Regions from separate parts of the Homo sapiens genome. Here region 1 is linked to region 2. The links come from fine-mapping of genetic effects on gene expression. A gene starts in region 2. The other region holds a variant in brackets. All regions are shown on one strand. Distances are between the middles of the regions. Region 1 overlaps ZNF283 (zinc finger protein 283). Region 2 holds the start of ZNF283 (zinc finger protein 283).

Region 1 (4,399 bases), 23 kb after region 2:
AATGTAAGGAATGTGGGAAGGCTTTTAATTGTGGATCAAGCCTTGTTCAACATGAAAGAATCCATACAGGGGAGAAACCCTATGAATGTAAAGAATGTGGGAAGGCTTTTAGTCGTGGCTATCACCTTACTCAACATCAGAAAATTCATACCGGTGAGAAACCTTTCAAATGTAAGGAATGTGGGAAGGCCTTCAGTTGGGGTTCAAGCCTAGTTAAGCATGAGAGAGTCCATACTAATGAGAAGTCTTATGAATGTAAAGACTGTGGGAAGGCCTTTGGTAGTGGCTATCAACTTAGTGTTCATCAGAGATTTCATACTGGTGAGAAGCTTTATCAACGTAAGGAATTCGGGAAGACCTTTACTTGTGGCTCAAAACTTGTTCATGAGAGAACTCATAGTAATGATAAACCCTACAAATATAACGAATGTGGGGAAGCCTTTCTGTGGACAACTTACTCAAATGAGAAAATTGATACTGATGAAACCTTATGATTGAAAGTTGTAAAAGAATATTTTGTGTGTGTGTATAGACAACTTATCATAATAAGAACTCTTACTCTTGAGAAACCTTGTGAATGTAAGGGTTGTGCAAAAGCCATTCATTTCTGTTTATGGGCAATTATCTTGCTATCCAGCAATTCATACTAGTGAGAAATATTTTGAATATAATTAATATGAAAAGGCCTTTAGACTTCTGTACAGTCTTATTGGATATCAATTTATACTGATGTAAAATCATTTAAATGTAAGGAATGTGTGAAGATCTTCATTCATGACATAAGGTCTGATTAACATCAAATAATTGGTATTTGTTAAAAAGAGTTTAAATAGGAGGAATGTGGGAAGGACCTAAACTTAATTCAGTTCTTGCTGCACATCAGAGAATTCATACTGCTGTGTAATCCTATGCACATAAGGAATTTGGGAAGGCTTATAGACACAGTAAATATCTTAGAGTACATCAGAGAATTCATCCAAATGAGAAATCATTTGAATTAGAATTATAGGAAGGCCTTTAGACAAATGCTACCCAAATTATTATCCAGAGACTGGTGCAGTCATAAAATTGTCATCTGTCAATTGTGAGATAAACGTGGAAAGTGAGTAAATATTTGGAACTTTTATAGCAATTTGACATTTCCATAACATTCTGTTTTACAAAATTATCAGTCCATAAATGATTGAGAATTGAAAACAAAGTTTGTTCTTTCCCAGAAATAATTTGAGACAAGACTCACACTTTTCAAGACATGAGACAAGTGACAATTTAAATAAGAAATTCTTCACTTGCACCTCTCTGATTAGAATAGCAGAATATTCATACTATAGCAAGATTTGGCAAATGAGGGAATCAAAATTTTCTAATGCCTGTAACAGCATAAGATAATTTATACCAGATATGTTAAATGTGCAGAAGCCTTCCAACACTATTCAGTCTTTGTTAAACTTCAGTAAGTTCATCCTAGAGAGTAACTCTGTTAATGTAACAAATGTAGGAAAACCCTTATCCATGGCAAATACCATACTGTCATCACCATTTCACCTCCATACTACCTGTAGGATGGTGAGCAAAATGCTTATCTCTTCTGGACATGATGTTTCAAATGCTGATGGTAACTAATAATGCTGTTACAGAGATTAGATGGATTTAGTATGCATCATATCCTTGGAAGAGTATCTGGTATGTAGCCTATGCTTAATACATATTAGCTATTGTTCATATTGTCTTTATTATTAGTATTACTACTGGTGAATTCTTAGGAGAGGCACAACCGTTTTGAGGAATGAATTCAGAAAAGCTTCCCATAACCACTCATCCATTTGAATTTCAGATAGTTCATTCTGGATAAGATCTAGTACAGTATAAAGAATTTGAGGGGATTTTAATTCAGAGTTTATCCCTTAAGCTGAGCTAAAAAAATGAGACTTGAAAAAATCCAGACTTTTGAAGAGTTTAGGAAAGCTGTTTTATAGAATGTCACACATTAGTTTC[A/T]TTCCTCATGGTGAAATTTGATATGGGCCTCTCCTTCACATTTCTCGTAACATGAAGTTGGAAATAGAGGCTTAAACATTTTTTACCAGAACACTTCATAGATGGTGATGTGTACTTCATCTTGCAATACCTCAGAAGCAGATAGTATCCATTTCCCCCAGTATCACCAGTGCCAAGTTTGATCACTTATGGTAACTACTGGAGTTGTCTGTTATAAAGATCCATTATATACCTAATAGGATTGGTCAGCCTTGATCAATGATCTTTGGAAATGTGTGATCATATGGTATGTATTTTACTTTTTTTTTTTTTTGGGACAGGATCTCTCTTTCTGTCACCAAGGCTGGAGTGCAGTGGTGTGATTTCGGCTCACTGCAACCTGCACCTCTCGGGTTCAAGTGATTCTCGTGCCTCAGCCTCCCAAGTAGCTGGATACACAGGTGTGCACCACCATACTGGCTAATTCTTGTATTTTTAGTAGAGATGGGGTTTTGCCATGTTGGTCCAGGCTGATCTTGAACTCCTGCACCTGCCTCAGCCTCCCAAAGTGTTGGGATTACAGGTGTGAGACACTGCGCCTGGCTATATTTTACTATTTGGAAATCACAATGCATCTTAAAATTGATGGCTTCTTGCAACCACTTTCAACCAGGTGCCTGTCATGATTTAGTGCTAGCATCAAGGCAGGTTAGTTATGAAGAAATAGAGTGTGTGTTTATATACTCACACAGTTAGAAATCGACCCTTTTAAAAATTATTTCTTTTTGAAAATAATGTCAGTTCCATCAGAACTAATGCATTGATAACTAAATGTCTGTGGTTCCTTGTCATAGGTCTACACCTGACCTCTCTATTTTGTGCACATAGGGGATTCGTAATATCACTGTTCAGTCAGTCATTCACCATCTAGTGATCATCATTCTACATGATTGCACTTTTTCAAAGGCATAAAAAGCCAACAGTTGCACTCTTAATAATCAACTGTAACACAAAGCAGAGTACTTTGGGAGTTTTAACAGGATATATTATTGGTAACTGGCTATTATGCCACTCCCTCTGGGTGCCACATTTGCCTGTTAACCAAGAAATGTAGACATGGTGCCTTATCCCAACATTTCTGAAATTATATCTCAAGGAATCACCAGTGCTTACTAGTACTTGACAATGAAGGAGGATTTTACAGTTAAAGAAGCTTATAAAGTAGCATCTACTAAATCCCCTCCTAAGGAACAAGCAAAAGCACCTCACCAGCTTATCAAAAGACTAAAGAGAAGTGAAAAAAAAAAAAAGACGGCCGGGCGCGGTGGCTCATGCCTGTAATCCCAGAACTTTGGGAAGCCGAGGCGGGCGGATCACGAGGTCAGGAGATCAAGACCATCCTGGCTAACACGGTGAAACCCCGTCTCTACTAAAAATAGAAAAAATTAGCCGGGCGTGGTGGCGGGCGCCTGTGGTCCCAGCTACTCGGGGAGGCTGAGGCAGGAGAATGGCGTGAACCCGGGAGGCAGAGCTTGCAGTGAGCCGAGATTGCGCCACTGCACTCCAGCCTGGGCGACAGAGCGAGACTCCGTCTCAAAAAAATAAAAATAAAAAAAGACTAAGGAGTATTCTAGTGAAGAAAATGGTTGAACTTTGTTTAAACTGGTGTATGGCAAACTTCACTGTTGAAATACTTATTCCCATGACCTATTATCTTTGTAGGTGGGTGAAATTGCATTGGGAACTGCTGCTATAACCAAAAGAGAATTTCAGTCACCATGTCTGGTTGTTAGCTATGATGGAATGGCAGCATCATGGTCTCAGTTATGAGTGAAAATCTTTGTTGTAGCTAAGTAGTGGTGCCTCCTGAGTTTTATTAAATGCCGTTTCACTATCTTTTTCTGCACTTCTATAGTATTTAATTTGTTCATGTGATAATTTATTCTGATAGATTCACTGACTTTTTCCCATTCCTGGATATTCCAGGTTAGTCATAGTATCCTTCTGATGCATTGCTTGATTTCATTTTGCCATTTTATTTAGTATTTTTGCATCTCATGAGTGAGATTATATAATAGTTTTCTTTTTTATTGTATTTTTGTTTGTTTTGGTATTGCAATAGCCTGTTTTTTAATATTGTATGATCCTATTAGGTTATTTTGTTTGATCCTTGACCACTTTTCTAGTTCCATCTGTTGCATTTTTTTTTGTCTTTTAATTCCTACTTCAGACATAACAGATTTATTGAGTGTTAGCACAGTTCCTTTAAGGAGCCTTCATAGCCATGTAGTACTAGCCAAGATCCGCATAAAAGACGCATCCCAGCATGGCCCCTAAAATCCTTCATTATGTGCTCTTAAGAATAATGTGTTGGGAAGTCAGAACTTCCTTATAGGGCTGTTATGATCATACTTGTACATGTCTT
Region 2 (4,399 bases):
ATTCTTGACTTCAGGTGATCCAGCTGCCTCAGCCTCCCAAAGTGCTGGGATTACAGGTGTGAACCACCATGCCCGGCCTGGAGACTATTATTCTAAGTGAAGCAACTCAGGAATGGAAAATCAAACATCGTATATTCTCACTCATAAGTGGGAGCTAAGGTGTGAGGATGCAAAGGCCTAAGAATGACACAGTGGACTTTGGGGACTTGGGGGAAAGGGTGGAAAGGGGGTGAGGGATAAAAGACTAAAAATTGGGTGCCATGTACACTGTTCAGGTGATGGGTGCACCAAAATCTCACAAATCACCACTGAAGAAGTTACTCATGTAACCAAACACCACCTGTTTCCCAAAAACCTATGGAAATAAAAAATTAAAAAAAAATCAGACCCCCAAAATATTCAGAGTAGTACTTGTGGGAGTCATTGAGCAAGTAACATGGGAAGAGAGGAGGCTGCTTCCACCAGTGGTTTTGGAGGTGGAGCAGATGCTGATGATAATGAAGTCCCAGATGGGAAACGGGGATGGGTGCCGAGGAAAGCTCAAGGACCCTGCAGATGAGGACTCAGACCCACGATACTGGATGAGGCATCCATGTCACCATGGGAGTCAACCAGGGTAGTGGCCTCAGCTGAGGCAGGGGAAAAGCTGGGATCCAAGAGCTCTAGTCTTCTCTTGATAAGCAAGAGAGACCAGGAGGTGAGAGATGGCAGAGGATGAGAGAGGTGATATCAGTGACCAGAAAGAGCCCCTAAAAAGTAACTTCCTTTTCTTTCTGTTAGTTTTAATATAAAATTTCGCTTTAATATTTTTAGACAATTCTTTTTTAAAAAAGTATTTATATCCAAAGGTTCTTACCACACCAACCACAGCCCCAATCTTTTTGCCCTAACCTCAGAATCAGTTAGTTGTCTCCTTTAAAACCTTTCTCTCTCTCACACACCCACACACACACACACGCAAACACACAGGAGAGAGAGAGAGGGAATATATAGTATTGTTTTTGGAGTATGAGTGTGTGCTTCAGAATAAATGGTTTCATACTCTATAAAAAATGAGATTCAAATTTTATAATCCATCAAGTTTTATTGGAACACAGCCATGCTGGATTGCTTGTGCATTGTTTATGGCCGCCTTTGCACTGCCATAAGTCTCCACGGTCACAATATCCACTCACTACCACTTATTGTTGTCTTTCAACAGCGGCATATAAAATCTGTAACACAGTTCATCTCACACCTAATAAAACAGACTCACACAGGCATAAATTTAGAAAACATCCCATGAACATAAACAGGTCCACGCAGGGTCCCAGACACCGAATCGAACTAAGAAACTCCCTCACAGCAAGACACACCCATCTGTTCAATTGCCAGACACTGTTCCAGGCGCTCATACCCAGGTAAACTGGTAGTGTCGCGCAGGTCATTTCCAGCGAACTTACCCCGGATTCCCTTGCTCGCTCACGTCTAAGTCCCCAGACACCCCAGTCCCATCTTCGCCTGTTCTAGACTCCAGAATGCGTTCCTTAGCGAAAGCTGAGAACCTTTTAATTCGCTCTCAGTCAACACCAAAGACCCTCAAGCAAAAGCAAGAGCTCCCGGGCGTCTTCGAAAAAAGCGCCTTTGACAGGTGAAGCCAAGTTGCATGCTGGGAGCATCCCTGCTGTCCAGGTTTCAACTTCCGGAGACTCTGCCGCTGTGGACTACATTTCCCAGAAGTCTCCGGGGCACAGGCCTTTTAGGGGCGGGGCGAGCTTGCCTGCCAGAAGCTCCTCTCCCAGCCTGCGAGCATTTCCAGGCTCTTGTTTCCCATCAGCCTCTGGGTCCAAACTAACCACAGGTCTCTGGGTCCTTTTCCGGTGTCCTTAAGGTTCTTGGACTCTGCATGGTGAGTTGGTCGTGTCTGTAGAAGTAATCAGCCCGGGTGAAGCTGGGAGGGCTCGGCTGGCTTTACTGGGGCCCGACTGGAACCGGCAGTGAGGGTGGGGGTGGCATCGGGGGTGCTGGAGGTGGGGAGGGCTGGGTCACGGACAGAGCGTGTCGTGTCCGGATCCTCAAGCCTGTGTGCACGCGAGCAGCCGAGGGACAGTGTGTCTCAGACGGCGTGGCAGGGACGGGGCGTGTCCCCACGGAGGTGGGTGCAGTTGTGAATGTGTGACGGGCTGACAGGGTGCGTGGCCGTATTTGTAAATGTGATTTGCTTTGACCAAATGCTCTAGGTTCCCTTTAGCCTGTCTTCGGGCCTGCCACAATTAAATGACCGCAAGAAAGAAGTCTATGCTAAGCCCCATAATGAACGTTTCAAGCAAGAAGGATGAGAATTTTAGATCTGGAAGTGTCCGCGGGACAGGATCTTGTCAAGACCTGATGGGGAAGTTCTAGAGGTGGGATTCCTAGAAGAGGGGCCTCTAGGAGCTCTTTGGTGGTGAGCTACATGTTTCAGAGCCATTGCAAGCAGACCTCTGTCCCCAAGAATTGCCCTCAACACAGAGACAGACTCTAGCCTCCCTTTTCATTCCGTTTGGTTTTGTGTGGATGAAGGCAGAAGTGGCCCCAGAGGGTGTTTTGCTCTTCTTTTTCTTTTTTAATTAAGTCTGTGACGCGCTAGAAATGCTGATGTCTCATGTTACTGTTTTTTCCCCCAGTGCTGCCAGGTTGCCAGATTTCTAAGAAGGAGTTTGAAGAGGAGAAAAGGATTTTTGCATGTTTAGAAATCAAGGTTCAGGTGAGGTTTTTTATACATACTTTTTAAATACATACACATACAATTACCTTTGCTTCTAGGTCATGAGAACATTTTCTTTCCTTGGCCTGAAATATCTTGACTGGGTTTTCCCAGTTACATGACCCGCCATGCTGGTACATATTTCCTCCCAGTGGCCCCCTATTGTTCTTCTCCACAATTCTTACCCACCTGTTCATATGGCAAATTGTTCAAATACTTCAGTGCATTATGATGCACTGAAGAGTTATAGAAAGGCACCTCTTGTAGATTGCTATTAGAGCATTATTTTATACTATGATTATTTGAAGAGATTAGTAATTAGGTGGTGTTATATAAACATTATTTTTTATCTTTTCTGTAGTCATAATTAAAATTTTTTTTTAACTTTTTTTAGAGACAAGGTCTCACTCTGTTGCCCAGGCTGAGTGCAGTAGTATAGTCATAGCTCAGTGCAACCTTGAAGTCCTGGGCTCAGGTGTTCCTCTGGCCTTGGCGTCCCAAAGTGCTGGGACTGCAGGTGTGAGCCACCATGCCTGGCCCATAGTCATGATGCTTAAAGAAAGGCAAGGTATAAGGGATTTTAAGTAAGGGAATGTTTCTGGCAGTAAATGACAATGTTGTCTGCTTTGTGAGGCTTTTAGGGGTGGAAATATGATTGAGCTTTGAACATAGGGATTTGTAATTTGCACCAACAAGAGTGGGGACTTTCAGATAATCTTTAGATAGAAATCTGTAACATTTCCAAGCATGACTTGTTTGAAGTCCAGCTTTCTGTGGCATGTAAGAAGCCGTACTATGTTGTAGTTAAAAATAAGGCCCTGGGGTCGGGCACAGTGGCTCACGCCTGTAATCCCAGCACTTTGGGAGGCTGAGGGAGGTGGATCATGAAGTCAGGAGATCGAGAACATCCTGGCTAACACGGTGAAACCCCGTCTCCACTAAAAATACAAAAAATTAGCTGGGCGTAGTGGTAGGCGCCTGTAGTCCCAGCTACTCGGGAGGCTGAGGCAGGAGAATGGCGTGAACCCGGGCGGTGGAGGTTGCAGTGAGCCAAGATTGCACCACTGCACTCCAGCCTGGGTGACAGAGAGAGACTCCATCTCGAAAAAACAGCAACAACAAAAAAATTAAGGCTCTGGATCCAAAGTATCTGAATTCAAATCCTGGCTCTGCCTGTTGGTAGCTGTGTGTGCTTAGACAATTGATTCAGGCCCTCTGTGCCACATCTATAAAATAGGGACAGGATAGTACCTACCTAATGGAGTTGATATGATGTAAGATGAGATATTATATGTAAAGCTTCGTAGAGCAGTGTCATCCCCATGATATGGGCTTACTGAATATTGAGTTGCTATTATTGGGCTCTTCTAGATTATTTCCCATAAACTTTTTATAGATTAGAGTAACAGAAGTATGAAGTTGATTGTGACGGGTGCTTGCAAATTAACTAAAAAAGTGGGGGCTGGGCACGGTGGCTCACACCTGTAATCCCAGCACTTTGGGAGTCCGAGGCGGGTGGATCACAAGGTCAGAAGTTCGAGACCAGCCTGGCCAGCATGGTGAAACCCCGTCTCTACTAAAAATACAAAAAATTAGCCGGGCATGGTGGCGGGTGGCTGTAGTCCCAGCTACTCGGGAGGCTGAGGCAGGAGAATTGCTTGAACCCAGCAGGCG

What was found. PIP is the estimated chance that this variant, and not a neighbour inherited with it, causes the effect.
Region 1: its variant is the best candidate, but not a certain one, in a credible set for the expression of ZNF283 in whole blood (INTERVAL, PIP 0.50).

The regions. Positions count from the first base shown.
Region 1 is chr19:43,848,148-43,852,546 of GRCh38, forward strand. ZNF283 (zinc finger protein 283) reads left to right here. Exons shown (of 7, transcript NM_181845.2): 7 at 1-3,870. The coding sequence ends at 494. Among named protein-coding and RNA genes, the nearest start is that of ZNF283, 23 kb to the left of the region's middle. The variant A/T (reference allele first, on the strand shown) is at 1,996.
Region 2 is chr19:43,825,557-43,829,955 of GRCh38, forward strand. ZNF283 (zinc finger protein 283) reads left to right here and starts at 1,765. Exons shown (of 7, transcript NM_181845.2): 1 at 1,765-1,888; 2 at 2,646-2,725. RefSeq lists an enhancer at 1,623-1,822.